4 linked regions of the Homo sapiens genome follow. The protein of the gene in region 3 interacts with the protein of the main gene of each other region in a pairwise test. Each region holds a gene or a part of one and is shown on either strand. Other genes may lie near its edges.

Region 1 (7,179 bases), on a different chromosome or scaffold from region 3:
GCTATTGGGTGAGCCAGCTGGCTGCCATGCGACTGCCAGTTTCTCCAATGGACATTTGCACCTCGGTGTTTCGGTGAGTCGTCCCACCGCCTTTGCTCATTTTTCCTCCTTCTATTTTTAGGGTTTTTTTTTTAATGTTCCCGGAAAGGCGGCACCTCCCAAAGGTGGGGACATCTCACTGGCCTAGGGGCTTACTTTTCAGAGTGACTCAGGCGGGTAGAAGTTACTAGGGCTGGCAGGGCCAGAGCCTGTTGTTTTTCAAAGATAATCTGCAACTCTGAAGAGTGGGGTGAAAAGATTTCTACACAGTGTACATTCTACAGAATTCTAGTTTCTCCGCGGGCGCAGACTTTTCCGCCCTCTAGTCTAGCGTGAAAACAGTTCGACCACTGGATGTGGGCGGCGAAGCCCGCACCCTAGAGCGCGGTGTCTCCCTGCAGGAGGGAGCTCCAGCCCGCGCCGCCGCGGCCGCTTCTGGCCTCCTCGGGAACCGAACCGAGCATACCTCAGTGCTCTCCTAGAAGCGGCTCCTTTTCCCCTTCTTACTCGCGAATGGCGAAATGAATAGCCGCGCGGGATTTTACCCGTTTGTGTAGTGGACTCTGAGGGGGCACCAGGTACCGAGACGGAAATCTTTGCGGTAAGAATAAAGTCAGGTAAAACGCCTGGTACAGCCGCCCTGCAGATGTCCCAAGAGTAGGTCCCCCGTACACTCTTCCCATTAAGTTCTTAGGGGGAGGACAGGGAAGGCCCTTTGGTCTGGCTGGATTGATCAGGGAGGTATGCGCATATGTTTGCCCTCTGGACATTTGGGGAGGGGTTATGGGGGAGTTGAAGGCAAGAGGCAAAATCAGGTAGAACAAACAACTACAGCCAAGAGCGGCACTCTCGGGGAATGGGCACACGGAACTCCGCGCAAACCTCTGGCTTCTCAAACCTACAGCCCTGCCCTTTCTCCCTTTGTAAACAAAATGTGAATTACAGACTTACTGCCATCCAGACACTATTTCTCCCTAAATCTGGCCCTTAGTTCTCACTGGGATCCACGTTTTCCTCCGCTCTCCAGCTCCTCTCCATCAGGCCATGTCACACACAGCAGCCAGGCGGGGCCAAAAAGTTTTAGCGCGAGACCTCCTGGCTAAAACCTGGCCAGCGACCTCGACAACACATCCTAGGCCCAGGTGAAGGGGGTTTAAGCCCTTGCATCCAGGTAGCTTCCGGTTCTGCAGTGTGCTTGGTGCGGATTTGGGAAGTCTCCCTTCCTTCTCTCCTAGCCACACCCAGCCCACACAAGGGCAGAGAAAACCTGGTGGAAAATAATGACTCGGGCGACACTGCCCCTCTTCCTTCAATTCCATCCCTACAATGGTCTGCAAAACTATTCATGTTTGGGGGTCCAGATATTAAGTGGGGGTGGGTACATGTGGCTGAAAGAACACAGATTAGGCCTTCAGGCTGTGCCAAGCCAGGCCGGGGGCCTTTTTGCGTGTCCCGACATGGCAGTATGGTTGCTGCGTGCACTCCGCATAGCCCGTGTTGTGCGTGGCGGGCTGTCGCTGCAATGTGCAGCCCATTGACACTGATGGATGCGCCAATGGTTGGACGGACAGATGTTAGGGCGGATCGCACAGCGCTCGGCGCCTGAGCGGGGGAGGGCCAGGCAGCGACCCAGCGGCGGCGGCCGGCTACGCGGAGACCCGAGTTCAGGCCGCGGCCCGCAGTGGGAGGGGGCCGAAGGAACAGAGGTTTGCAAGAACAGCGAGGGGATGGAAAGGAGGAGAAAAGCGCGACCAGGGAGAACTACACGCTTCCGTGTGCGGCGCCCCGCGCTGTGCACACGCCGCACCGGGCGCGCCTAAGTGGGAGCTTCGAAGGTGAGCTGGGAGCCGGCGGGAGCTGACCCCGTGCGGCGCAACCCGCCTCCAGGCGACAGGAGCTCAGCGCGGCCACCAGAATGGTGAGGCCGCCGGCGGTGTCGGCCAACTCACCGTTTCCTCGCTTGCAAGAAGCGTTTCACGCTCCACGGCCGCGTCTCCCCGGCCTGGAGGAGTAGCGGTTCTGGCCTCTGCGGCCGCGGGCACCCAACGCGCACGGCGCCTCAGCCCCCGAGTCCGCCAGCCCGAGAGCCCCGCCGCAGCCCGCCTCGGACTCCCTGCCCCGCCTGGGGTCCGTACCCCACAACTCCGAGCGCTCCTGCGCGCGGAAAGGCGCTGGAGGCGGCTTTATAGCCGGGGAGGCCAGCGGCGGCGCATCTGCATCCTGGGAGACGTCTGGACCCAGCCCAAGCCCGCAGGCTGGGCGAGCGGAGACTTTTGATCTTACCGTGTGGGTGAGATCACTGTCTCCCGGTCTAAAAGAAAAGAAAGCATGCTGTGAACTTTTGAAACAAACTTGCAAAAACAGTCGTAGAGAAAAAATAAAAAGGACACAGGGCAGAAAAAGAGGGAGAAAGAGACTAAAAAAAGAAAAAGATAAGGGGAGGGGGAAGGAAGGAAGGAGAGAAGGAGGAAGAAGTCTGGGGTTTGCTGCTCCAGGAGCGCTCAGGCAGCCGGTGCTGGAGCGCGGGGCGCCCGCCCTCGCCGGGACTGTCGGCCTCGGGGCCTGCGAGAGCGCCAGAGCCCCAGCCGGCGCGCCCGGGCGCAGGGCCGCCTCGGGGATAGTGGGCCCGGAGGCCGCCCCCGCGCTCCAGCAGCCGCCGCCCGGCAGCGCCCGGAGCCGGCCCCGGCGCGGCCGCCCCATTCCCGGCCTGAGAGCTGGCCCAGGGAGACGCAATCGAGCCCGCAGCGCATCGATGCGCCGCCGCCCGCGCCGCTCGGGCTCCGGCTCCCGCTCAGCCGCCGCCGCCCGGGGGTCGCCCGCATGAGCTCCGGCCCACCCGCGCCCTCACCGCCGCCCGTAAGTGAGCCCGCGTCGCCCCGCCGCCCACGCCGCCCAGCCAGCTCCTTCTTGCCGCGGCCAGTCGGCCGGGCCGGCCCGGAGCCTCAGCGACCCCGATCACCAATCAATAATCAATCCCTCTAGTCCAGCAGCCCCGGCAGGCCGGGCGCGGGACACGGCGCGGCGGCCCCCTAGGCTCTCGGGGGGAGCCCCTGGCGGGGGATGGGCAGGGGAGCCCGGTTTCCTTCTCCCGCCCCCGTCCCGCCCTAGGATCGGCCCGCGCCGTGGATGGGGGGCGCGGCCCGGCTCCCGGGGGCGAGGGGCGGGGTGGAGGGACCCTGATCATCCCAAAGTCAGGAGAGGAAACTTGAAGGAACCCCCTCCCACACCGACCCCCGGGACGGGCCCAGGAAAGTTTGTCCGGGGAAAAAAAATTGGGGGAAGTGGCTACGGCGGGTCCTGGGGGAGGAGCTGGGTGGCGCGGGGTCTGAGGGCTGCCCCCACCCGCCCCGGCCCGCGCCCGCCTCCTCCCTGGAGGGGGCCTGCCCGTGGGCTCTGGCTTCCCCGGGGGACGCCAGCCCCGGCCCGGGGACCACGCTGGGGGCTCCGGAGTCGGCGGGTGGAGAGGAGTGCGAGCCGGGTGGGGCAGCTGGGGGGTGGCTGGGGACGAACGCTGGGTGGGAATAGGGGTGGGGGGTAACGAGCGCCCCGGGACGGGCTCGGCGGGGCTGGCGCCGCGCCCCCGCGTGTGCGCACGGGGCGGAGGCGGAGGGGCGGCACCCCTTTCGCTGGCGGGGCGGGGGTCCCACGCGGGCCTGGGGCCGGGGGCGGGGGCGCGGCGCCCCCGCGGGCGGGCGATTGACACGATCATCTCCTTTTCCTTTAAGCTTGCCTGTTGCCGACGCCGCCGCTCCAGCCGCGCCACGGGCAGAAGACTGGACCGCCGAGCCCCGGGCCGCGGCGGCGGCTGCGCGTCCCCCCGGATGCCGTGACCCCCGGCCTAGGGGCGGGGGCCGGGGCAGTACCGGTCCGGGCCGCTCCCGCGCTCCTCCTCCCACCGCTCTGCCCGCCCTCTCCCCGCCCCCCAGCCCCGAACCCCGCGCACCTCGTCTGGGGACGGGGCGGGGGGGGGCAGGGCCGCCGCTCCTCCCCGCCCCCTCCTCCTCTGGCCTCTGGAGCGATTTGTCAAACTTCCCATTCCGCCGGCAGCGCGGTCCTCCTCCTCCTCCTCCACCTCCTCCTCCTCTGCCTCCTCCTCCCCCCCGTGCTCCTCCCTCCCCGAGCCTCCCTCGCCCGCCCTCCTTCTTCCCTCCGCACGTTCGGGGTTCGCGGCGGAGCGCGGCGCGGGGGGGACGCGGAGAGCCTGGGCGCAGCAGCATCCTGCGGGCGGCCGCTCTCCGGGGGGGAGGCTGAGAGCAGGCCCGCCTCGCCCCCCCGCGGGCCCGCCGCCCCCTCCCTCCCTGTCCTCAGCCCGGCAGCGGCGGCGGCGGCGGCAGTGGCAGTCGCCGGAGAAGCATCATGCCGAGGAGGAAGCAGCAGGCGCCCCGGCGCGCAGCAGGTACGAGCCGCTTCCCCTTCCTTCTGCTCTCCTCCTCCTCTTCCTCCGCTCGCCCCGCGCCTCCAGCGGGCGCGACCCCGCTCCTCGCCCCGCTCTTCTGCCCGCACTGAGTAACTCCGGGCGCCGCTCTCCTGTTTGGGTGCGTGCGCCCGCCTCGGGTACCGGGCGCCCCCCGGACGCCCCGCCGCGCTCTGCCCTCTTCCCTCTCGCACCCATTTGGGGAGCCGCTCGCGGAGCGCGCTGAGCCGCGCCAGGTCCCTACCTCCTCAGCTCTCCGGCTGCAGAGGGAATGGGAAGCAACCCCGGCCTGGCTCTTTCTGTGGGTGGCGGGCGGGGTCACCTGAGTTCCCCGGGACATCTTCCGCGTCCTCCGAGCGGCCGACCGCCGGGGGACTGCCTGGTGTCCGCCGAGCCAGGGAGCGCGAACGAGTGAGCGAGCCGGTCCCCTCGGCCACCTTAGTACTAACACGATTGATTCCTCATTTCTTGGGCCCAAACTGGGCACAGCGGTGGAACCCGGAGCGCACAGGGTCTGGGTATTGTCAGATGACTGTCAAGTCCATGTTAGATGCTGGCGTTTCCTTCTCCCCTGTTTGTGTTTCCTCGCCCCCACCCCCTCCTTGTACTGCTGCTCCCACCCTCATCTCCGCATAGCACTTAGTTCTGGGACGTGTCTGAGTACTTTTTTGTTCCTCCTTTTTTTTTTTTTTTCTTCTTCTTTAACCGGGAGTGTCAACTCCTGTTAAGACTGAGCCGATTTTTTTCTTTTCTTTTCTGGAAAACGCATCATTGAAAACAAAACAAAAACCACACACATAACATTATTTTGCAATAATGTCGGTTGGGGGCATGTTGCCTGGAAGAAGGGTTTCTGGCCCGTTGCCATCCTTGATTTGATGACTGATTGATCGCCCGTCATGCTGCTGCCTTTGATCTATTCATTCCCAATAAACATCAATAAATCACTTGCAATAGTGAGGCCAAGCTCTGTGACGTCAGGAGGGCCCTGTCAGTGCAACTTTGGGATTTGGGGCGGATTGCCGAGAGGACCACATATGGACGTGATGTATTTTGATATGAGTAACACTCAGATGTGCAGAGGTTCAGATGCTCCCTGAAGGGGAGGGTTAAGTGGGGCTTCCTTTCTTTTCTTTTCTCTTCCTTTCTTTTACTTCTCTTTTGATGTTAAGAGGGAAGGGCAGAGAGTAGGGTCAGGGCATTGGCTGGTGCCCATCTTGGAGGAAGGCGTTGTAGCCATGGTGCCCTGAGTGCCCATAATTTCCATCATGCCAGCCGGCACTGCCAGGGGACCTCACACGTTGGCTGCACTCTGCACTCCAGACCCCTTACACGGGGTCACAGAGAAGGAATGATAATTCTCTCTTCTCCCAGAAATGTACTTGCCTGCCAGTGTCTTCAGAAAATCTCAGAAGAAAACAGGGTTGGTTTGGGGCTTAGGATGCAGGTTTTGCTCTCTGTCCTCGGTGTTGCCCAAATTTAGAAAGTTTGAAAATTCCAGGAGTGATTGTAGGGAGCTTGCCGCCTCCCTAGTTAACCTCCTGGAGCTTGCTTCTTGCCCGTCCCACCTTCTACTTTAAATTCCAGGCTCAAGCAATGAGCTTATCTACCCAAAATAAACTCTGAAACTTTGGAGGAATCCTTCACAAAGTTGAGTAGTAGGAATGTCTTGGGCTTCTTCCAGTCTTTGAAATTTTTTTTTTCTTTCCTTTTTGGATACACATTTTAAGGTATGTGTGTGCCTCCATCCAATGAACCATATGTGATTACATCTTTACATTTGGTTCAGAACTCTCTCTCTAGTTCATCTCTTCGGTTGCACCCTGCCAATCTGAGACTCGTATTTGATAGCTTCCTCCAGAAAAATATCAGAGGAGGAGGGAACCTGCTGTTGGCTTTATTTATTTATTTATTTATTTATTTTTAGAGCAACCTGTTCACTAACCTTTTCACACTTTTTTTTTTTTTTTAAAGAAAGCCAGCCAGGAAATCTCAGGTCAGTTAAGAAAAATTCATTATATAAAAAACTTGACTGCAGGACTAATAGGAGATGGAAGAATGGTTTTGCTCTATCAAAATGACCCGTCAAAACGACTTTGTTTCATATTTGATTTAATTGTCTCTCTCCTGACAGGCACATTCATCAATAGCTTAATGGTCAATCAGAAGCTGGCAGCATGAGTGCTTTATTTCTTTCCCATACTCGGGTTTTGGATTTACTTTATCAGAATGCCTCTGCCTAATGGACATGTGGAGGAGGGGGTGGAGGCGGACTGAAGAGCTACTTATTTAAGAAGAGTGGAGAGAAAAAAAAAAAACTCCACATTTAGGCTGGTGATAAGTATGCACAGAGGTTTTTTTTTTGGGGGTGGTTTGTTTGTTTGGATGGACCAGAAACTTCCCATTTTTTTCTCCTCTTTTTTAGTTTTCCCAGCTGCAAGTTATAAGGTTCATGCCAGCTTTTGTGGCATACTGGGAGTGATGACAAATTGATTGCTTTGTACTGATAGAGAGAGAGAGTGGGGAAAAGAAAGATGTCTGCTGATTGGTAACTGGAAATCCAGTCCCCAGCAACCTTGAGAATACTCGAGAATTTTTTTCCCCTCCAAACTGAAAGGTCCGCTCAGCCATAAAAAAAGAAAAGTTGTTTTGCCAGCTTCATTAGTGTTCACCTAATTAGCTGTAAACCTGATGGATTCCTGACAGCTTTAATGATTGGAGATGAC
Region 2 (7,229 bases), on a different chromosome or scaffold from region 3:
TGGCTCCTCCAGGACCCCAAGCCTCTACTCATGGTCCATCCCGCTCCCAGGAGATGCCCCTTGTCCAGGAGTTGCCACTGCTGAAGCTTGGGGTGAATTACCTTCCGTCCATCTTCATCGCTGGGGTCAATTTTGTGCTGCCGCCCGTGTTCAAGCTCATTGCTCCACTGGAGGGCTACACTCGGAGTCGCCAGATCGTTTTTATCCTGCTCAGGTTCCAGCCTCACGGGGATGGCTGGGAATGATGAAGGGTGGGGGCGGTCAGAGGGATGTTGGCGCTGACAGGTAAGACACGGAAATCCTGCTGATACCGAATCCAGGGATTCAAATCCTGACTCTGTTGGCCAGGTGCAGTGGCTCACACCTGTAATCCCAGCACTTTGGGAGGCCGAGGCTGAGGTCAGGAGTTCGAGACCAGCCTGACAAACATGATGAAACCCCGTCTGTAGTAAAAATACGAATATTAGCCCGGCGGTAGTGGCTTCTGTAGTCCCAGCTACTCGGGAGGCTGAGGCAGGAGAATGGCTCGAGCCTGGGAGGTGGAGGTTGCAGTGAGCTGAGATCGCGCCACTGCACTCCAGTCCGGGTGACAGAGTGAGACCCTGTCTCAAAAAAAAAAAAAAAAAAAAGAAAGAAAGAAAGAAAGAAATCCTGATTCTGTCACTGGGCCTCAGCTTCATCTGTGAGATGGGTTGAATGCGGGCGCGTTCCACTGAGAAGGGAACTGCCACATGGTGGGTACCGGGTCAGGGCCCATTCTCTGCCTTCCCCCCTTCAGGACCGTGTTTCTTCGCCTCGCCTCCCTGGTGGTCCTGCTCTTCTCTCTCTGGAATCAGATCACTTGTGGGGGCGACTCCGAGGCTGAGGACTGCAAAACCTGTGGCTACAATTACAAACAACTTCCGGTGAGAACGGCATGGGTGTGCGTGGGACTCTTGGGTCCCTGAAGGAAAGATGGAGCTGGGTGGGTCCAGACTCTTGGTTTGGGCGGAGAGGGGAGCTTGGGGTGCTGGAACACTCTCCCAAGGGTATGAAAGTTTGAAAAACGAGGACCCCCAGAGAAAGTATTGACAGGGTCTCATAGGCTTGCGATGTGGAGACTCGGACGCGTGGGCCTCCAGGTGCCCGGGTCCCGAGTTCTTTCTGATATATTTCTTCCTTCTTCAGTGCTGGGAGACTGTCCTGGGCCAGGAAATGTACAAACTTCTGCTCTTTGATCTGCTGACTGTCTTGGCAGTCGCGCTGCTCATCCAGTTTCCTAGAAAGTGAGAGCCCCGCCCCTTGCTGTGGCCCCGCCCCTCTAGGACGAGGCCGTGCCCCATCGCGCTGTTCTTTTCACCGCGCACCTTTTTACCATTCCCGCCTCTGCCTGCTCCCTTTGCTTGCCCTAGGTCCGCAGATCTCCCCGCTCCCCGCCCTTGTTTTAGTGGGTTACTTCCCTCTGGCCCCGACGGCGGCGACATCTGGGTCCCTTCTAGTCCTCAGGACCCGCCCTCTGGACACACCCCCTCCACGTGGAGTCCTGAAAGTCCCGCCCCCCCCCCCCCCACCACCAATACGCATGCTTCCTATTGGCGGGCGGGGCGGTGGAGGCGTGGAAACTCCAGGCCGCCACTCCCCTGACTCCGGCCCGGCCCCGCCCCGTCCTTCAGGCTCCTCTGTGGCCTCTGTCCTGGGGCGCTGGGTCGTCTGGCGGGGACCCAAGAGTTCCAGGTGCCCGACGAGGTGCTGGGGCTCATCTACGCGCAGACGGTGGTCTGGGTGGGGAGTTTTTTCTGCCCTTTACTGCCCCTGCTTAACACGGTCAAGTTCCTGCTGCTTTTCTACCTGAAGAAGGTAAGGGGTAGGGGGGACCCTTGGGTCTGAGGCAGGAGGTATTGGGGCCCGCACTCCTGGGTCAAGGGCAAGGAAGATCCTGGGGGCCTGGATTACTCGGTCCTGAGAGAGGAGGGGGTTGGAGGACAGACTACTGCATCTGAGAGGAGGGGTCTAGGGCATTCTGACTTATATGTCTGAGGATCTGGGGACTCAGACTCCGGGGTCCTAGATGAGGAAGGGGCTCAGACTCCTGGTTCGGAAAAAAGGAGAGGCAGGTAGGCCGGGTGCAGTGGCTCACGCCTGTAATCCCAGCACTTCGGGAGACTAAGGCGGGTGGATCACCTGAGGTCAGGAGTTTGAGACCAGCCTGGCTAACATGGCAAAACCCCGTCTCTACTAAAAATACAAAAAAAATTAGCCGGGCTTAGTGGCAGGCGCCTGTAATCCCAGCTACTCAGGAGGCTGAGGCAGGGGAATTGCTTGAACCAGGGAGGTGAAGGTCGAAGTGAGCCAAGATCGTGCCACTGCACTCCAGCCTGGGCGACAGAGCGAGACTCCGTCTCAAAAAGAGAAAACAAACAAACAACAACAACAGCAAAACAAATTAGCCGGGAGTGGTGGTGCACACCTGTAATCCCAGCTACTCGGGAGGCTGAGACACGAGAATAGCTTGAACCCGGGAGGGGAGGCTGCAGTGAGAGCCACTGCACTCCAGCCTGGGCGACAGAGCGAGACTCTGTCTCAAAAAAAAAAGCCTGGGCGACAGAGCGAGACTCTGTCTCAAAAAAAAAAAAAAAAAAAAATGGAGGCACAGACTCTTGTGTTTCAGAGCCCTTTTCTCCGTGCCTTCCCCCACCAGCTTACCCTCTTCTCCACCTGCTCCCCGGCTGCCCGCACCTTCCGGGCCTCCGCGGCGAATTTCTTTTTCCCCTTGGTCCTTCTCCTGGGTCTGGCCATCTCCAGCGTTCCCCTGCTTTACAGCATCTTCCTGTAAGTGCGAGAGGCTCCCGCCTCTCTCCCTCCCTCTCTCCCCATTCAGTGTTCAGACTCCTGGCACTATGTGAGCCCAGCCTGTCTTGACTTCAGGATCCCGCCTTCTAAGCTGTGTGGTCCATTCCGGGGGCAGTCGTCCATCTGGGCCCAGATCCCTGAGTCTATTTCCAGCCTCCCTGAGACCACCCAGAATTTCCTCTTCTTCCTGGGGACCCAGGCTTTTGCTGTGCCCCTTCTGCTGATCTCCAGGTGAGACGGCCCAGACTTCTGGGTCTGGGTTTGAATGCGTGTGATCTGGGGGCCACCACCTGCGTCCAAGAGAGGAGAGGCTTGGGCGTGGGAGCAGGCAACGTACTGAGTCTGAGGGAGGAGGCCTAGGCTCCTGGACTGCTGGGTCCGAAGGAGGAGGTGGGCGGGACGTAGGACTCCTGGATCTGAAGGCGGAGGGGCTGGGAGACTGAACTCCTTGAGCCCAGACGAGGAGGGGCTTAGGCGTCCACATCCCTGGCTTCGAAGGAGCCAGACGTTTGGATATAATGGAAGAGCGTGTCAGGAGTGGCTTCCGTTCCTGTCTCCTTCAGCATCCTGATGGCGTACACTGTGGCTCTGGCTAACTCCTACGGACGCCTCATCTCTGAGCTCAAACGTCAGAGAGAGACGGTGAGCCAGGCGGGTCCCTGAGAGGGCCCCTGGGGAACATGGAAAGGGGTTGGGGAAGAGGATTGTCTCACCTCCACCTCTCTTTGCCCCAGGAGGCGCAGAATAAAGTCTTCCTGGCACGGCGCGCTGTGGCGCTGACCTCCACCAAACCGGCTCTTTGACCCCCGCAGCCCACGTCCCGCTTTCAGACCCCAGGCCCATTGTAAGCCTAGGTCACAACATCTGTAAACTAGGAGAACTGGAGAAGACTCCACGCCCTTCCAGCTTTGGTATCTGGAGATTTCCAGGGCCCCTCGCCGCCACGTCCCTGACTCTCGGGTGATCTTCCTTGTATCAATAAATACAGCCGAGGTTGCTGAGCGCGCTTTGAAATCTGCGTCCTGAAGGTGGGGGCAGGGCTACAGCGGGGCAGGAGCCAATCAAATGTACGGGCATGTTTGTCGGTGCAGAGCGCTCTTCCGCAAGGAGACTTGTCGGTCATGTCGGCCAATCGACGGCCGCATCTGGTAGCATCAGGGGCGGGCCAACTTATGATTGGTTCAGATCTGTGACAAGAGGCGGTTGCTAGGGGATACCACGAGCCGAACGCCTAGCATTCGCTGTGATAAAGGGCGTCTCAGCCAATCACCTGTCGCTACAGGCCAGGGGGCCGTACCAACTAATTCGGAACCAATCCGCGGTCGAAGTAGGGACAAGAAAAAGGGGGGCATCCTCTCGCCAATCGGAAGTGCAAAGAGGCGGGCGTGCCAGTCCCTGGACAGCTACGACGCCATGAATATCTTGCCCAAGAAGAGCTGGCACGTCCGGAACAAGGACAATGTCGCCCGCGTGCGGCGTGACGAGGCCCAGGCCCGGGAGGAGGAGAAGGAGCGTGAGCGGAGGGTGCTGCTGGCTCAGCAAGAGGTAAGCTCGGAAGCCGGCAGGGCGGCGCTCCGGGGCCCAGCGCGCAGGCGCCGCGGTTGGGGGCCGGAAGCGGAGGCGTTGCGCAGGCTCAATGTGCCCCGTGTGAAATTCGGGACCAGGCGCCGATCCCACTTTCGAGGACGTTGCCCCGCAAACCTTGTGCCCACTTCCACGAAACCTTCCTTGATCTCGCCCTCGTCTTAGTTTTTCCCCCACTGATGTATTTCACATGGCTGGAACAGTGTCTAGCACAAAAGAGAAGCTTAACATTTAATGAATCCGTGAACCCTTGGACAGTTCAAGGAAATTCGGATCACTTTTTAGTTTGCCTGCACAGCCTATTTATTGAGCATCTACTGTATGCTAACTACATGCCGTGCACCTGACTTGCGGAATCCCCAATAAGCACTGTTCGTTCTTAGAGGGGCACTGTCATCTCTGTTGCACGAAGTGAGATGGCTTCAGTGAGGGGAAGGCACATTTTAAGGAGAGGCGGACAGCCAGGCTCCACGCCATCGGGCGAGCCCTTTCGTGCACCGCCCCCTAGACACATACACACAAACACGGGCTTTCCGTATGGCTCTTTAAATCTGTTTGGTGTACACCCAACTTTCATTTCCTTAGCTAGTCTGATCCTCCGCCGTGGGTGGGAGGTAGTCTAGGTTTTTAGAATCTCAGTAGGCTGCTGAGCGCTGTTTGAAATCCGCGTCCTGAAGGCAGGGGACAGGGCTTCAGCAGACTTGGGGTAGTCACTTGGAGCCATGGCTAGAATTCAGATCGTCTGGCCTAATGCATACCTTTATGGCTGTTTTAATTGTCTCACTTGAGGTTAGGAACCCCTTTGGTTTAGGCCAGGGACCTCCTCCCATACATCCTTGATGACCCGTGGTTTACTATTTGAAAGGGAGTTTACAAAACCCAGGCGTTGCCTCATCTGCCTACCCTCACCCCCAGCTAGGACAGGTGCCTCTTTTAGGCGCCTAGTGCTCCCTTTCTCATAACCCCAGCACCCTGGACTGCCATTTTCTGTGGTGGGCACCAGACTCACAGTTCTTGAATTACCTCTAGGTTCTGAATGTCCTGCCTATAACTTTCTCCCCAGGCCCGTACAGAATTCCTACGGAAGAAAGCCAGACATCAGAACTCACTGCCTGAGCTTGAAGCAGCAGAGGCGGGAGCCCCAGGTTCTGGCCCTGTGGACCTGTTTCGGGAGCTGCTGGAGGAAGGGAAAGGAGTGATCAGAGGCAATAAAGAGTACAAGGAAGAAAAGCGACAGGAGAAAGTAAGCTGGCCTCACCCACTTCATCAGAGGGGCCATGAATCGAGTTGGAGGGAGGGGGCACTTTAGCCATTGGTTGTGACCAAGGTCAAACAAGAGTGAACACACAGAATTTAGGACCATACCAAGGCATGACACTCAAAAAGCGTTGGCTATTGCCGTCTGGGCGCCCACAGGGGTTGGAGGTAGATGCTAGAGGTCCCCAGCTGCTGGGCAAACCGCTCAGTTCTCCAAACTGGAGGAGTCTCAAACCTGATGGGCTTTTAAAAATTTAAATCAGCCGGCTGTGGCTCACGCCTGTAATCCCACCACCTTGGGAGGCTGAGGCGGGTGGATCACCTGAGGTCAGGAGTTCAAGACCAGCCTGGTCAACATGGTATCTCTAAAAATACAAAAAAAATTAGCCGGGCATGGTGGTGCGCGCCTGTAATCCCAGGGAGGCTGAAGCAGGAGAATCGCTTGACCCAGGAGGTGGAAGCTGCAGTAAGCCGAGATTGCGCCACTGCACTCCAGCCTGGGTGACAGAGCGAGACCCCATCTCAAAACAATCAAACAAAAAGTGAATCAATCGCCTCTTGCTTTTTGGCTAAGATCAAGTGTAAAAGGTACATCAGTGGCTGTGCATGGTGGCTCACGCCTGTAATCCCAGCACTTTGGGAGGCCAACGTGGGTGGATCACCTGAGGTCAGAAGTTCAAGACCAGCCTGGCCAAACATGGCAAAACCCCGTCTCTACTAAAAATACAAAAATTAGCTGGGCATGGTGGTGTGTGCCTGTAATCCCAGCTACTCGGGGGGCTGAGGTAGGAGGATTGCTTGAACCTGGGAAGCAGAGGTTGCAGTGAGCCGAGATCGTGCCACTGCACTCGAGTCTGGGCAACAGAGCGAGACTCCATCTCAAAAAAAAGAGGTACATCAGCTCTTGTCATTTATCTGCTGTCTCTGGACTTGCTGACCCCACCCATCGCTCCTCTGCTTTGCTTGATCCCTTCAGGCTTCTCTTCAAGTCTCTCTGCAAAGATGCCTGCCTCTGAACACTCAAGTGGCTCCACTTGTCCCCTCCTTCCCCTGCTGTTACTGTACCTGCTACTGTCCCCCCAGGGGGAGCTTTGCCTCTGTTTGTCTTCCATCCCCAGCACCTGGTCCAACTGGTTCATAACAAGCCTTAGATACCTGTTCGCTTAGATACCTGTGTCAGGGAGACACACCTGACACCTTGAAAGATTATATCACATCTCTTGTATTTCCTGGCCCCCTCAGGAGAGGCAAGAGAAAGCTCTGGGCATCCTGACATACCTGGGCCAGAGTGCAGCGGAGGCACAGACTCAACCCCCTTGGTACCAGCTACCCCCAGGGCGAGGGGGCCCCCCGCCCGGCCCAGCCCCAGATGAGAAGATCAAGAGCCGTCTGGACCCTCTGCGGGAGATGCAGAAGCATCTGGGGAAGAAGAGACAGCACGGCGGTGATGAAGGCAGTCGCAGCAGAAAGGAAAAGGAGGGGTCTGAGAAGCAGCGACCCAAGGAGTAAGAAGACCCCACCTCGGCAGACCAGGGCCCAGACCTTCAGGGCTTGGCAGC
Region 3 (7,079 bases):
ACAAAGATAACTTGCTGATATTTGAGTAACACCAGTTTGCTAAAACTAAAAAGATGCCTTTGTGTCACCTTACGTAAAACAAGACTTGTTGCCTATAACTGATCTCAGCATCTGCCTCCCCCTCTTCTCACTCTGTACCTACATTCAAAGCCCCCTCTTCACAAGCCCAACGCCCCCATCTCCCCAACAGTCCCCTCCACTGAGGAGGGCCGTAGTTCTGTTGAGAAATTGTCAGAGTTGATAAGCTAAGGGTACAGTCACAGATTTTCTTGTTCAGTCTGCTTAACAGAAAGGCTGTTCCAACGGTAGGGGGAGAGAAAGGGACCGTGTTTCATTCCTAGTGTAAACATTGGAAGTCCAGGTATTTTGAAGATTACCTCATTTTTCAAAGGCGAAACCCCTCAGTCTTCACCCCAGGAAAATGGGACGCCTCACGCCTCATTTTAGCTGGGTCTCCTGAGTAGCTGAGACTACAGCTAATTTTTATATTTTTTTGTAGAGACAGGATCTTGCTATGTTGCCCAGGCTGGACTAGAACTCCTGGGCTCAAGTAATCCTCTTGCTTCAGCCTCCCAAAGTGCTGGGATTTTAGGTGTAAGCCACCACACCTAGCCGATATCAGTTTTTGTACGTTATTTTATATCTGTTCATTTTCCTCATCTCTTGACTTGTTTCCAGTAGTTTCTACATTGAAAGCAATTGGATTAAGCTGGAGAATGGATTTCTTGATTTAATCCAGAGGCACTTTATGTACTAGTTTATTATTTTCTTTTTCTTTTTCTTTTTCTTTTGAGATCGAGTCTCGCTCTGTCGCCAAGGCTGGAGTGCAGTGGTGCGATCTTGGCTCACTGCAACCTCCGCTTCCCGGGTTCAAGCGATTCTCCTATCTTAGCCTCCCGAGTAGCTGGGATTACAGGCACGTGCCACCACGCCTGCCTAATTTTTGTATTTTTAGTAGAGATGGGGTTTCCCCATGTTGGCCAGGCTGGTCTCGAAGTCCTGACCTCAGGTGATCCACCCGTGTCAGCCTCCCAAAGTGCTGGGATTATAGGTGTGAGCCACTGGGACTGGCCTATTTTCTATTTTAGTTTATCAAAAAGAGCACTCAGAGATAAGAACCCTTTCACAGAGAGTGAGCCTTGGGTAGTGAAATGATACCAGATTTGGAATCAGAAGTCCTGATGCCTGGCACAGGTCTGCCCATGGCTGAGGATGACTCTAGGACAGTCACTTCCTGTCTGGGCCTCAGCTTCTCAGATGTTAAGGCCCGCCATCTCCACCATGTGTCTTTATAGGATGTATAGATAGAGAAGGCCTGTGTTTACCTATTTGCACATTAGCTCTTTGCCTTGGTCTTGACATTTTATTTTTATTTCATCACTTTGTTGCATGTACTGTATTTTTGTAAAAAGATTCAGGGTGTAAATAAATAACACATTCACCATTTCTTCCATAGATCCCAGCTCTCCTGTTGGCTTCGTGCTTGGGGTAGATCTTCTTCACATATTCCCCCTGGAAGGAGCAACTTTTCTGTGCCCTGCTGACGTGACTGACCCGAGAACCTCACAGAGAATCCTCGAGGTGCTTCCTGGCAGGAGAGCAGATGTGATTCTGAGCGACATGGCGCCCAATGCCACAGGGTTCCGGGACCTCGATCATGACAGGCTCATCAGCCTGTGCCTGACCCTTCTCAGCGTGACCCCAGACATCCTGCAACCTGGGGGGACATTCCTTTGTAAAACCTGGGCTGGAAGTCAAAGCCGTCGGTTACAGAGGAGACTGACAGAGGAATTCCAGAATGTAAGGATCATCAAACCTGAAGCCAGCAGGAAAGAGTCATCAGAAGTGTACTTCTTGGCCACACAGTACCACGGAAGGAAGGGCACTGTGAAGCAGTGAGGATTTCTTGTGCCATTTTCATAATGGTCATTAGCTCCTTTTAAGCTAGAAACGTAGCCTGAGCTCCTGAAGAGTTCCTGGGAGATTTGAGCTGATTTTGGAGATGGAGCAGGACAAGTGGGGAGTCTCTCTCTCTCTTTCTCTCTCTCTCTTTTTAACCAAAAAGAGATGACAAAACTAAGTTCAGGGGCCATGGAAAATGAAAAAGTCCGCTATATTGTGATTTGGGAAGAGAAAGTTATCAAGAGAAAGAGGTGAGGATGGAAGGATGGAGAAAAACAGACTGTGGGAAGGATCAGAAGGAATCCGCCGAGGCAGGGATGGGTGTGCCCATGTGTGCCTTGACGGGACTTCATCTTATAGACTGTTAAACTGTCACACACAAACAGGCTTTCCACCCCTGCTCTGAGAGCACCACGCACAGATTTCCAGTTCTTAGTGTGGCTGTTTAAAGTAGAAAATCTGGGGGCTGGGTGAGGCCACTCATGCCTGTAAACCCAGGGCTTTAGAAGGCTGAGGCTGGGGGATTGCTTGAAGTCAGGAGTTCAAGACCAACCTGGGCAACATAGCAACACCCCCCATGTCTACAAAAATGAAAAACCAAAAAGCAAACCAAAAGAAAAATCTGAAATTTCCATCTGGGGATTAACTTCTGTCTTTCTGGTGAACAATATAGCAATTCACGCATTCTTCAAGCAGCAAAAGTTCCCGGAACAATTAGGGAAGACGTATGGTCTGAATTTATCCAGGCAGTGGGTCTGCTTTGGTTTTTGCTGGAAATTTATATCAGTGTCTGGGCTCCCAAGAACATAAATGTAATTGCCAAAGCAAGCAGTGATGTGGTGTGTTTATTTTCTTTTACTCATCTAGGAACTTGACGCAGCTTTATATTTAATAAAATAATAGAGATTGCATTATTTTAAGGTACTTTCATGCTTTGAAGTTTTGTTTTTTTTAAACTGGCTTCCTCAAAGCCATTTCCTGGAGGTGTACTCATCCCTCAAGAAGAGTTTGTTGACTATGATTAAATTCCAAGGACCAGTGGGGGAAGTCTGGAAACCCAGGAATCTCCATCAGGAATCTGGGGCTCTGTCCAGCTCCCCGAAGGAAACTGCGGGTCAGATGTTTTGATTTTTTTTTTTCTTTGAGAAACAGAATCTCACTCTGTCACCCAGGCTGGAGTGCAGTGAAGTGATCTTGGCTCACTGTAAGCTCCACTTCCCGGGTTCACGCCATTCGGCCTCAGCCTCCCGAGTAGCTGGGACTACAGGCGCCCATCACCACGCCCGGCTATTTTTTTTTTTTTTTTTTGTATTTTCAGTAGAGACGGGGTTTCACCGTGTTAGCCAGGATGGTCTCGATCTCCTGACCTCGTGATCCGCCTGCCTCGGCCTCCCAAAGTGCTGGGATTACAGGCGTGAGCCACCGCGCCCGGCCGCCAGATGTTTTGACTTTTCATTTTATTTCTGGTTGCAGTCAGGTTGTTAAGTCCAGGGACTCTTGCCCTACTCCACCTCGTTCTCTTATTCCATTTCATTCCCGGGGCACACAACTTGGAAGTCTTTCTCTGAAAGAAGGAAAATTCATTGCAGACCCTTAGGAACAGCATCTTCTTAGAGGGAAGCCAGGGGCTGGGCAGAGACGGGAGGAGGAGAGGAAGAGAATATGGAAACGAGTAAGGCACACTCTTCTCAGGAAGGCTCCAATTTGAAGGATAGACAAAGGTTACCATAATAATGGTGGGGCCTGACCTCACCCCATTGGATGCTGTGCCCTGGCTTGCAGAGCACTGGGAAGGTAGCCTAGTAGCATAAATTGCATTTCTAGTGGGCCCAGAAAAAAGCAAAATAACGGATTGATTCAAGCTGATACTGAGTAGCAAAATTTTGGGAAGAGTCAACGGTGCAAGTTTGTCCGAGGAGGCTGCCGTGGGCGCGGCTATTCCACACATTACGGCGCGAGGCGAAAGCCTTAGTGGAAGCGCGTCCTGCGCAAAGCCGGGGGGCCCCCGACTGCGCCTTGGCTCAGCCTTCGGTTCCGAGTCCTTTCCGTGCGGAGTCTCCCAGGGGTGGCGGCTCCGGGTGCGGACGCGGAGTCCCCAGGATCAGCCGGTGCGCAGACTCGGTTCTTTACGGCCCGATTGCCACGCAGGTCTCGCGAGAGCGCAGGCGCAAGTGTCGCGATAAATGGGCGCCGGCGGAGCGGAGGGAGATCCGAGCGGCGGCGGCAAGCTGGCTGCGAGCGGCTGAGGTAAGCGGCCCGGCTCGCGCGGGCGGCGGGGTCCCGGGGTCCCGGGGGTCCCGGGAATGGCAAGGGAGGGGCCGAGGGCCCGGACCGGGTGTGCTCGCCAGGGTGGGGCACAACGACCCAGACCCCGTGCCTCAGGACCCCGCGCCCGCCCCGTCTCCCATGGGCGCGCTCTCCTCTCTGTGCTCTCCCCTCCTCTCCCCACTCCCCTGTCCCCACTCCCCCTTTGGGCTGTGCTGGGGACAGCGGGCCCCTCGCCTGGGTCTCCGCAGCCGTCCCTTGTGCCAGGGCGGGCGGCCGAGGGGCGCGTGCTCGTGGTCCCAGCCCCGGGGTCCCGCTGCCTACCGTGTGGGTCCCCGGGCTAGGGTGCCGGCGCGCCGAGGAAGGGGCCTGAGCTGGCGCCTGGTGGAGAAGTCGGGGCTGCAGGGGCTCTTGGCATCCTGGTGGCTCGCGCCGGTCCGCTCTCAGGAAGGGGGCGTGTGGGCCCGGTTTCCCCTCGGGGATGGCAAGGGCCACCCTGATCTCGTTTGGGCAATGGAGGAATTGGGCTGTGGAGCCTCCTTCCAGGCGGGCCTGCCTCTGCGGGGCTGGCAGCCTGGGGAGCTCAGGCCTCTGCTTGCACCAGGCCAAGGTTCTTGTTAAATGGAAACTCAGAAACTGTGCAGCTGCAGAAGTTCTACCTTTGGCTTTTAAACGCGCTTGGCTGTTCCCTAGTTGTGGCTGGTGGGCCGGCCTGCCATGAGCCCATAGTAAGCGCCGGTGTTGGGGGTGCAAAGTTCTTTACTGCGGTTTGTCTTCAGCCTTCCAAAGCCAGACAGACCCAAGTTCCAATCTCCGTTCTGTAACTTTTTGAAGCTTCGGTTTCATCATCTCTAGAATCTGTGTAAAAAGACCTAATTCACCACCCTGTTGAGACTGAGCTTACAAATATAGTGCTGGTCAACCTGCAGCCGTATTCCCATCATCTAGCGGTGGAAGACTTGAGGGATATTGGCCCCGTTCCCCACAACTTTGCAAGTAGATTTCACTGTCATGAGTTTACAGATGAGGAAACTGAAGTTCAAGAAGTCTCGGTGCTCGGAAATGTCAGATACCTTTCTTTCTGATACCTAGTTGAAAATAGTAGTAGTACTTATTAATGTCACTAGAAATAAACAATGAAAATGAGCACAGCTGTGATGATCATCATCTTTACTGTCACTGTTGCATGCCTCGTTTCTGATTCCCAGAGGCCAGATTTTTTTTTTAATTAATTATTATTATTTTTTGAAACGGAGTCTTGCTCTGGCACCCAGGCTGGAATGCAGTGGCGCGATCTCAGTTCACTGCAACCTCCATCTCCTGGGTTCAAGAAAATCTCCTGTCCCAGCCTCCGGAGTAGCTGGGATTACAGGTGCACGCCACCACATCTGGCTTTAGTAGAGATGGGGTTTCACCATGTTGGCCAGGCTGGTCTCGAACTCCTGACCTGTGGTGATCTGCCCATCTTGGCCTCACAAAGTGCTGGGATTACAGGCATGAGCAACAGTGCCTGGCTTATGTTTATTTATTTATTTATTCATTCATTTATTTATTTTGAGACACTGTCTCACCCCGTTACCCAGGCTGGAGTGCAGTGGTGCGGTCTCAGGTCACTGCAACCTCTGCCTCCCAGTTTCAAGCGATTCTTGTGCCACAGCCTCCTGAGTAGCTGGGATTACAGGCGCACACCACCACACCCGGCTAGTTTTTGTATTTTATTAGAGGTGGGGTTTTGCCATGTTGGCCATTCTGGTCTTGAACTCCGGACCTGCCTCCGCCTCCCGAAGTGCTGGGATTAGAGGCGTGAACCACCCTGCCTGGGCAAGAGGCCAGACTTTGCTGTGAGTGCTCCTGGTAGGTAGTTTCAGGCATCAACTGACTGGATTCAGGAATTCCTAGAAACCTGGGAAAGCATCATTTTTGGTTTTGGGTGTGCCTGTTGAGGGTGTTTCCAGAGGAGATGAGCTTGGGAGTCTGAGTGGACCAGGTGCTGAAGATCCATCCTCAGAGTCAGGGGCAGTATCTAAGAGCCTGGGGGCCTGGAGAGGACAAAAACAGAGAAAAGGCGAATGTGTCCATCTGCCTGCAGGAGCTGGGATACACTCTTCCTCTCCTCTCCTCAACAGCAGCACTCCAAGCTCGCCGGCCTTTGGTCTCCAGGACTTGTCCCAGCAGCCCCTCGAACTGAGAATTACACCATCGGACCCCTGGCTCTGAGGCCTTCAGACTTGGACTGTGTCACACTGCCAGGCTTCCAGGGCTCCAACTTGCAGACGGCCTGTTGTGGGACAGTCTCTGTAATCGCGTGAGTCAGTTTCCCCAATAAAGCCCTTCTCTTGTGTCTGTCTCTGTGTCCTGTTGGCTCTGTGTCTCTGGAGAACCCTCTTACAGTGCAGTTGGGGGACGTGCCACCTGAGTGCTGAGCCCCGCCTCCCGGGCGCCAGCTGTCCATCTGTCCATGTGCAACTGAGACTCAATTGGTGGCTTGCTGGTGGGGATTTGGTGGCATGCTTCCTTGCTTCCATTTTTTGTCTGGTAAATTGGCAGCATGGCTCCCAGTTGCCATTGAAGAATGTGGTTACAGGCATGGGTGTATTATGAGCTCCAATGTGCGTTAGGGGAGTGGGGCTGTCCAGAGGCTCTGCTGACTGCACGGCTGATGGCACGTGGAAAGGCTGCCCCTGACCAGTCCTTTGTCTGTCCCCGGAAGGAAAGCAACCATGGAAGACCTGGGGGAAAACACCATGGTTTTATCCACCCTGAGATCTTTGAACAACTTCATCTCTCAGCGTGTGGAGGGAGGCTCTGGACTGGATATTTCTACCTCGGCCCCAGGTTCTCTGCAGATGCAGTACCAGCAGAGCATGCAGGTGAGTGGCATGTGCCTGGGTGGGAGTCTGCTCTGGGGAGAC
Region 4 (7,842 bases), on a different chromosome or scaffold from region 3:
CTGGCTAATTTTTGTATTTTTAGTAGAGACAGGGTTTCACCATGTTGGCCAGGCTGATCTCTAACTCCTGGCCTCAAGTGATCCACCCGCCTCAGCCTCCCAAAGTGCTGGGATTACAGGTGTGAGCCACCGTGCCCGGCCTGTGACTTCGGTTTTGTTTGCTCTCTTTCCCTGGTTCTCCTTGGTTTGCTCATTCTGATGACAGCAAATGCCGTGTTTTGAGCTGCCCTGTGGAGCAGCCCATGGAGCAAGAAACTGAGGGTGACTTCTGGCCAAAAGCTCATAAAGAATAGAAGCCCTGAGTCCAACAGTCTTTGAAGAACTGAATGAATCCTGACACCTGAATGAGCTTGAAAGTGGATCCTTCCCCAGTTGAGCCTTGATATGAGAACACAGCCTGGATGACACTTTCATTACAGCCTGTGGGATACCCTGGGCCAGAGGACCCAGCCAAGTGAGCATCCTGACTCCTATAAGTTCTGAGATCATAAATTTGTACTGTTTTAAACATACAGTGTCAAACTTCTAAGCTTTATGGTCATTTGTTACGCAGCAATACATAGCTAATACATATTTTGGTACTAACAGTGGGGTGTTGCTATAACAAATACTTAAAAATTTGGGACTGAACTTGGAACCAAGCGGTGGTCAGAGTCTATAAGGATTTTGAGAAGCATGATAGAAAAAGCCTAAATCACCTTAAACAGTTTTTTTTTTTTTTTAAGCAGAAATCTGGAGTTGGAAGATGCAGTGAGTGAGGGCCCAAATGGAAGTGAGGAATATATTACTAGAAATAGTGGAAGAAAGACCCTTGTTATGTAGTGGCAGAAACAGTGACACTGTCATCTGCAGTTATGTGACTAATGAACTGAATGATTTAGCTAAAGAGTTCCAAAGAAAAGATGGTAGTTGCCTCTTACTTTCTTCTTGCTGCTTGTAGTGAAATGTGAGAGGAAGGTGATGAATTGAAGAAGGGACTGTTAAACAAAAAGATGCCAGTACTTAATGGTTCTGAAGTCTCATCCTTTCCAGATCCCAAAAGATGCTAAAATTAAGAAATAGCTTCAGAAGGCTGTCTGGAAAGTGTGCCCAGGAGTGTGACTGTGCGACCTGTTGTTAAAACTTCAGAAAGATCAAAGGATGAGGGTATTACTCTGTCAAACAAAGGGTGCTTTAAAGAGATTAAAGAGATGCCTGATATATCCTCTTAACAGAACCATAGGACCTCTAGGAAGCTTAAGGCTCCTCAACAGGAGCCTCAGTTAAAAAGGGGTGTGACTTTTGTTCAATGGAGTGAACCCCTGTAAGTTTTACTGTTGAGAAAATAACATCAGCAAAATGTTGGCAACTTCGGGTAAAAGGGATAGAGACAGTACAAAATGAAAAGATACCATTGAACAAAAAATAAAAATAAAAAAGACAAGTCAGAGAGTGGATGCAAGAGTCCAGAAGGCAGAGCTGAGAGCCATGGAGAATTATCCCCAGGCCTTGAAACCTAATCAAGGAATGTCCAACATTTGTGTGGCTGGATTTCAAAACCGCTATGGAACATTGACTCCATGTCTCCATTTTCCTCAATTTTGAATAGGAATGTCACTAGTTCTTATCCTATGCCTATCACATCACTGTATGTTAGGTGTGTTCAGGGCAAATTACTTAGTTTCACAGATCTATGATGGGGAAGAATTGAATCTGAGAAGCTGTACTTAAGGAACGACACTGGAGGAGCCTCAGCCACACCTGGAGCTGATTTATATGACCAGATTCTAGCTTTTAAACTGATGCTTTAATAGGATGAGAATTTTAAAGATCTTAGGAGGGGATGACTATATTTTGCATGTGGAAGGGATGTACATTATTGGGGGCCAGAGGGCAGAGAGTGGCAGGCAGTTGACATGGCTCCCAATGATCCCTGTTTCTTGGTATAATTCTCTCCCCTTTGGTGTGGACTGGACATAGTGATGAATGGAATGTGGCAAAAATGAGGGATGTTGCATCCATGATGAACTTATAAGAGACTACAACTTCTGTCTTTTTCACACACTCTCTGCAGCTCTCCTCAGCTCATCTTCTCTGACAGAAGCCAGTTTCCCTGTTGTGAGATGCCCTATGGAGAGGTCCACAGGGCAAGGAACTCAGAGTGGCCTCTTGCCAACAGCTCCAGAGTAGCTGGATCCTGCCATGTGAATGGGTTCCTTCTCTGGTCGAGCTTTGAGATGAGACTAGAGACCCAAGCAACACCTTGATTGCAGCCTGTGAGAGACCCTGGGACAGAAAAATCACCAACACTCCACCGGTATTCCCAACTCACAGAAACTGTGAGATAGTAAATGTTGTCTTAAGCCCACTAAGTTTTGGGGTGATTTGTTGTGCAGCAAGAGATAACTAACACAAGTCCATGTCAAGCATTCTCACATCTGGTAAATTAGTCTGGTCTTCACAAATACCCAGTAAGGTGTTCGGAGACACTACTAATTTATCTTCTTTCACAGATGGAGAAAATGAGGCTCCGAAAAGACACAGGACTTCACCAGGTGGGGCTAAAATTAAATTGCACATCTTCAAGCTAGGTGAAGTTCAAGTTAGCTCCAAGTTTTCTTTCTCCTCCTATCCCCAGCCACCAACCTGACGTGCCCACGGCAGCTCTGTACGTCCCAGTGCACTGCCAGTCCACAGCAGTCTGGACGGGCTACAATGGAAGTGTGGACTCACTTCCAGTTTCTGACCCAGAGAGAGAGATCCCAAGAGACTTTGGTCAAAGAGGGCGGGAAGGTAAGTCCAGTCTAGGCAGTCTTCACTCACAAGCAACTCTGAATGGGGAGAAGGAAGATGAAACCCCATGTCCTGGAAGAACCCTGGCCCTTCATAAGTCTCTGCCTCACCTCTCCAATCTCTTTCATAACAGCAGGAAACACGTGAACCACACTGATGTGTGCTGAAGCCCAGAAGTGCAGATCCCCACTGCAGAACTACTGGTGAAGACCAATGGATGGTTGCTGGGAAGTGGCCCTCCCCAAGATGTTCATTGGAGTTGCCATGGTGATCACTATACACAGGGCTCTGTTACCTCAGAGGGCTGATAGGCCCACCCGTAGGGAAAAGAGGCCAGGAGAAAGCCAGGATTGAGGCCAGGAAAAGGCAGGAGGGGCTTCAATTATTGTTCACTCTCTCATCCACTCTAGAATGTCAGTTGAGCCCCCACTACATGCCAGGTGTGCCAGGCACAGGGGGCTCAGATGCTACCAAGTGCAAAAGATGTTCTTGGGAGCTCAAAGCACTAAGTAGGGAGAAGAACTAGCTCTGTGTAGGAAAAAGGAGGAAGGACTTATGAAAGAGCCATTTGAGTTGGATCTTGAAGGATGCCTAGGAACTTAACAGTTTTGAAGGGATGAGAATATTAAAGGCATGGATGTGTATAACAGCATAAATGTAGGTCGAGGTCAATGGGGAAGGAGAAAGATGCATCTGGAGCTGTCTGATTTGGACACCCAGGGATCAGGGACCTGGGAGTAAAACTAAAGGAAGGGTCCTCTCTCCTATTCCTAAACAACAAGGGCTACAGAAGGAGATCAACAAAATTAAGTGACTTCTTTTCTGCAGAGAAGAAGGAGGCAGAAGTCATTGGTGCCAGCACTGGCCCATTCCTGTCTGGCTGTTGCTCAGCCTGGACAAAGAGTGGGTATAGTGAACGCCTCCTGCAAGCCCAGCCTTTCAGGATTTCCCCAGGAAACAGAGAGTGCTGTGGTTAAACTTGGAGTCCCCAGAATCTGGGCCTGTCACTTATTAGATAAGAGACTGGCCAAGTCCTTTAGCTGAACTTCCTTCACATGTGAAACAGATATCACCCAACACTAAGGATAAGGGTGATGGGCGAATAAAACAATTTTTTGCAAAATGTAGCACATTGCCTTGCACAGAGAGAGACATCACAAAACTCTAAGCTACTTCCGCAAGCAACCCATCAGCAAGTCCTTCGAAGTACACTAGATTTGGATGCCTTCGTCCACCTCCACAACTCCCCCTACTCCCTGGTCCAAGCCACCCTCATCTCTTGCCTAAGTATTATCTATTGCTGCACGACAATCTTGCCATAAACTTCGAAGCTTAACATACAACTGTTATCTCACAGTTTCTTTGGGTCGGGTGTCTACTCATGGCTTAGCTGAGTTCTCTGCATTGGGGTCTTAGCAGGCTACAATCCAAGTATTGGCCAGGGCTGCAGTCTCATCTGAGGTTCCACTAGGGAAGAATATGCTTCCAAGCTCATGTGGCTGTGGGAGGATTCAGTTCCTTGCAGTCTGTTAGACTGAGGGTCTCAGGCTCTCTCTGGCTGTCAGCCAGAGGCCATCCTCAGTTCCTTGCTATGTGGGCCCCCCAACACCAACATGACACTGACTTCATCAAAGCCAGCAAAGAGGGAGTCCCCTTGCAAGATGGGGCATTACAATGTTGTGTACCATAGTCACAGAAGTGGCATCCATCACCTTTGCCGTAGGCTGTTGGTTAAAAGCAAGTCACGGGTCCCACCCGCAGTGAAAGGGAGAGGGTCACACGGGGCATGAACACGAGGGGGCAGATAATATGGGGACCACCCTGGAGTCCACCATATCCTCTGACAGTCTTCTCACTCAACAGCCCAGCAATCCTGTTAAGACCTATATTAGATCATATGTCACCCCTCTAAACAAAACCTTCCAGCTCAACCACAGTAAAAGCTGACATCCTCCCATTTATCTGCAAGGCCCTACCCAACCTGTCCACCATTTTTCTCTGACCTCTGCTCCTCTCACTTTCCCAAGTGCTCCCTGGGTCCCTGCCATGCCAGGCTCTGCTGTTTTTTGGGCACACCAAGCACAGTCCCTCCTCGGGGCCTTTGCACGGGCTGTTCCCTCTCCTCTCCTGCAACTTCCTTCCCCCACATGCCTACATGGCTTGCCTCTTCACCTCCTTCAAGACTCTGCTCACCTTCCCAGACCACCTTTTCTTAAAAAGCATCCCAGCCCACCCCACACTCCCTACTCCTATTTTCCAACCTTTTCTACCATTGCACCTTATTGCCATCTGACATACTGTGTATATTTGCTTCTTCTTCCCACAGTAGGATCTGAGCCACATGTGAGCTGGGAAGAGGACTGTTTTGTTAGTGGCATGGAAGTGAGAGGGGTCAACCCTCCAGACTACCAGTCCCACCACTACAGGTCCCACCGGCCTCAGCATTCAGCCCCATCACCCAACCTGCCAGCCCCAAAACCAACCTCCTCAGCATCTCCTGAGCACCTATTTGCCCCAATGCCAAGCCAAGGACAGACTTGGTCTCCGGCCCTCCAGGATCCTGTCTTCACTGGGAAGGCTGGATAGTGGGGAGCCGGTAGTCCCCAGTAGGTGGGGCCCGGAATTCTTCTTGCAACCCCAAAGGAGGTCTAAGAGAGGCTGTTTCTGGGAAACTTGAAATCCAGCCACATGGGGCCAAGCTATCAGGTTGCTTTCTTCTACTGTGGCTTCCTGATTCACCTGCCAGAGCCTGGACCTTCTCCCAGGGCCAAAGCTCTTTCTCCAGCCCCTCCCTCCACTGCTCCCCAGGGGGTCTTACTCTGAGCCAGAAAAGGTGCTCGAGACAGAGGCCACCTTCCTTTCACCTGCTCCTGAGCATGGCCTCTTCTGAGAGGCCCTGGGTCTGTGTGACACCTCTATGGACATATTGGGAAAGCCAGCTGTCCCTCCGCCCCTACCCAGGAGGCTGGGGCTACAGCAGCTGGGGCTTCAGCTCTCTGGCTTTCTGGTTCCCTTCCCACCTGTCTTCCTGGTAGGACCCAGCATGCTCTGGGACAGAGTCCACCTGACATGGGACAGCAGGAGGCTGTTTCTGCCAAAACTGGGTGAAAGTGGTGTCCTCGGTATGGCTTCCCCAGCCAGAGGGGCTATGGTGGTCTCTGTCCTTGGTGGAGTCTCCGGAGTTTGAAAGAGATGGAAGTTTGGGGGCAAGGATGGAGCCCAGAGAGAGGCAGGCAAACACACTACTCAGAAAAGGCAAAGTTTATTCCAGTGTTGACAGAGAGAGGGTGAGCCTTGCACAGCAATTCTAAAAACATGTCATCTCCTTCACCTAAGAGGTAAGAACCGGCTGTAAGTCATGGGGTCACTAAACCGGCCGCAGTTACAGTAAGCAGAAGAGGTCACGGCTCAGGCCTTCTCAGACTTTCCCTGGGACACACGGCTCTCTGGGGGGGCCCGGCGAAACCACTCGGACCAGGAGCCATCGTACACGGCCACATCAGGCTTGCCGCAGAGGTAGGCAGCCAAGGCCACGTGGCAGGCGGTGACTCCCTTGCGGCACGTGGCAATGAGAGGCTGCGAGAGATCCACCTTCTTGGTCTGGAACAGAGCACGGAGCTCTTCTGGGCCCTTCTCGAAGCCATCCTCAGTCAGGAAGTCCATGAAAGGCATGTTGACGGCACCACGGATATGGCCCGAGTCCAGTCCTGGGCAGGGCAGAGGACACAGCTTAGGGGATGTATGAGGGGTGGGGACTAATGGGGCCTGGAGGATTCCATCAGCTATAGCTGGAAGGATAGATAGCTTTGCAAATAAAAATAACATCTTTGCTCTGCTTGGAGCTCAATTTATTCCCAGCCCCACCTATTATCATTTCTCATGACTTAAGATGCCTGCAACTCCTCTCCTAACACCTGTCTTGAAGTAGAGATGCCCAAAATCACACCTGCTTGAGAAGACAGCGGCATGAGTCTCAGCTCCACTAACCTTTACCTTGGGCAAATCATTTCACTTCTCTGAACCTCAGTTTTCTCATCTGTAAAATGGGCTCAGTGGTACATACCTATCTCACAGCCATGTTGAGAAGAGCAAATGGGACAACTTATTGCAAATGCTATGTGCTGAGAACACAGCGGTGAAAGGCAGAGACACAGCCAGGCCCTCTGGGAGATTCCAGTCTAACAAGAAAGGCAGATGCTAAACAGATAACCACATAACTAATCAGATATGTCCCCATTTTACAGATGAATCCGCTGAGTCTTGGCAAAACAACACGGCTCACCTAAGGCCACACAGAAAGATGAAGGCAGACCCAGGATTACATCGGGGCCTCTGGTTTTCTGTTAAGCACACAGTTGCAGAAAGAGCAAGTGACCTGGTGTCAGATGTGAGGTCAAATCCCACTGGAGCAAGTTATGTCAGCTCTCTGAGCCTCAGTTTCTCCATAGGAAAAATGGAAATGAGAGTATCCACTGTGTATTGGCTGCTGCACGAAGCGGGTGGCACAAGGAAAGCGCTGGCTTTGGAGGCTGGCCCACCCACCCTGCCATGCTGCGCCCCCAGCCACTTCACCACCCATGGAGGGGGTAGGGGGAGAATAGGGACAGTGTGGGCCTTTTTGGTCCCCTCCAAGAACTTGGATGGAAGCAGAGTGGAGGGACTCGGCTGGCTCTAGAGTCCTTTCTGGAACTGTCTCAGTACCCAGTGAGGGCCCTCGGCCAAATCTGGCTTCAGAAGAGCCAGGAATTGGGGCAAAGGGGAAAGCCATGGCCAGAGCTGGTGCCACCCACAGGGTGAGGCCACAGGCCAATCTCACACATGCCCCAGGCCACTCCTGTCTTCCTCGAGCAGCCCACACCCTGGCAGGGGTGGGGGCTCTATGGTTGGCCCCACTCCCAGTGCCCAACCTGCACTTTGGCCTGACACAGGCCTATCTCCATCTCTTTGAGCCCTCCTTGCTCCCCAAATCCCCACCCCCATTCAACCTGGATTATGGGACAGGGCAGGAGCAGGGTGGCAGGAGTGGGAGGGGAAGGATCTGACTAGTGTGGCCAAGGCATATACTGGGGC

What was found.
Region 1: the proteins of MAD1L1 (region 3) and TSHZ3 interact in binary tests that used the Homo sapiens proteins (3 or more experiments, as listed by UniProt).
Region 2: the proteins of MAD1L1 (region 3) and LENG1 interact in binary tests that used the Homo sapiens proteins (3 or more experiments, as listed by UniProt).
Region 4: the proteins of MAD1L1 (region 3) and CIMIP4 interact in binary tests that used the Homo sapiens proteins (3 or more experiments, as listed by UniProt).

Annotation. Positions count from the first base shown.
Region 1 is NC_000019.10:31,346,436-31,353,614, reverse strand, and holds the start of TSHZ3 (teashirt homolog 3), read left to right. Parts: upstream 1-4,178; 5' UTR 4,179-4,395; coding exon 4,396-4,435; intron 4,436-4,697; exon of another isoform or gene 4,698-7,179. UniProt on the Homo sapiens protein: Transcriptional regulator involved in developmental processes. Functions in association with APBB1, SET and HDAC factors as a transcriptional repressor, that inhibits the expression of CASP4.
Region 2 is NC_000019.10:54,156,709-54,163,937, reverse strand, and holds the start of LENG1 (leukocyte receptor cluster member 1), read left to right. Parts: upstream 1-4,216; 5' UTR 4,217-4,242; coding exon 4,243-4,374; intron 4,375-5,476; coding exon 5,477-5,656; intron 5,657-6,912; coding exon 6,913-7,175; intron 7,176-7,229. Other genes in the region: voltage-gated chloride channel TMC4, read left to right, coding at 51-214, 779-905, 1,168-1,265, 1,653-1,836, 2,678-2,808, 2,905-3,060, 3,393-3,471, 3,564-3,632.
Region 3 is NC_000007.14:2,229,942-2,237,020, reverse strand, and holds the start of MAD1L1 (mitotic spindle assembly checkpoint protein MAD1), read left to right. Parts: upstream 1-4,075; 5' UTR 4,076-4,149; intron 4,150-6,256; exon of another isoform or gene 6,257-6,293; 5' UTR 6,294-6,472; intron 6,473-6,877; 5' UTR 6,878-6,887; coding exon 6,888-7,037; intron 7,038-7,079. Other genes in the region: MRM2 (rRNA methyltransferase 2, mitochondrial), read left to right, coding at 1,457-1,899. UniProt on the Homo sapiens protein: Component of the spindle-assembly checkpoint that prevents the onset of anaphase until all chromosomes are properly aligned at the metaphase plate.
Region 4 is NC_000022.11:37,004,847-37,012,688, forward strand, and holds the start of CIMIP4 (ciliary microtubule inner protein 4), read right to left. Parts: upstream 3,006-7,842; 5' UTR 2,883-3,005; intron 2,811-2,882; exon of another isoform or gene 2,626-2,810; intron 1-2,625. Other genes in the region: TST (thiosulfate sulfurtransferase), read right to left, coding at 6,181-6,479.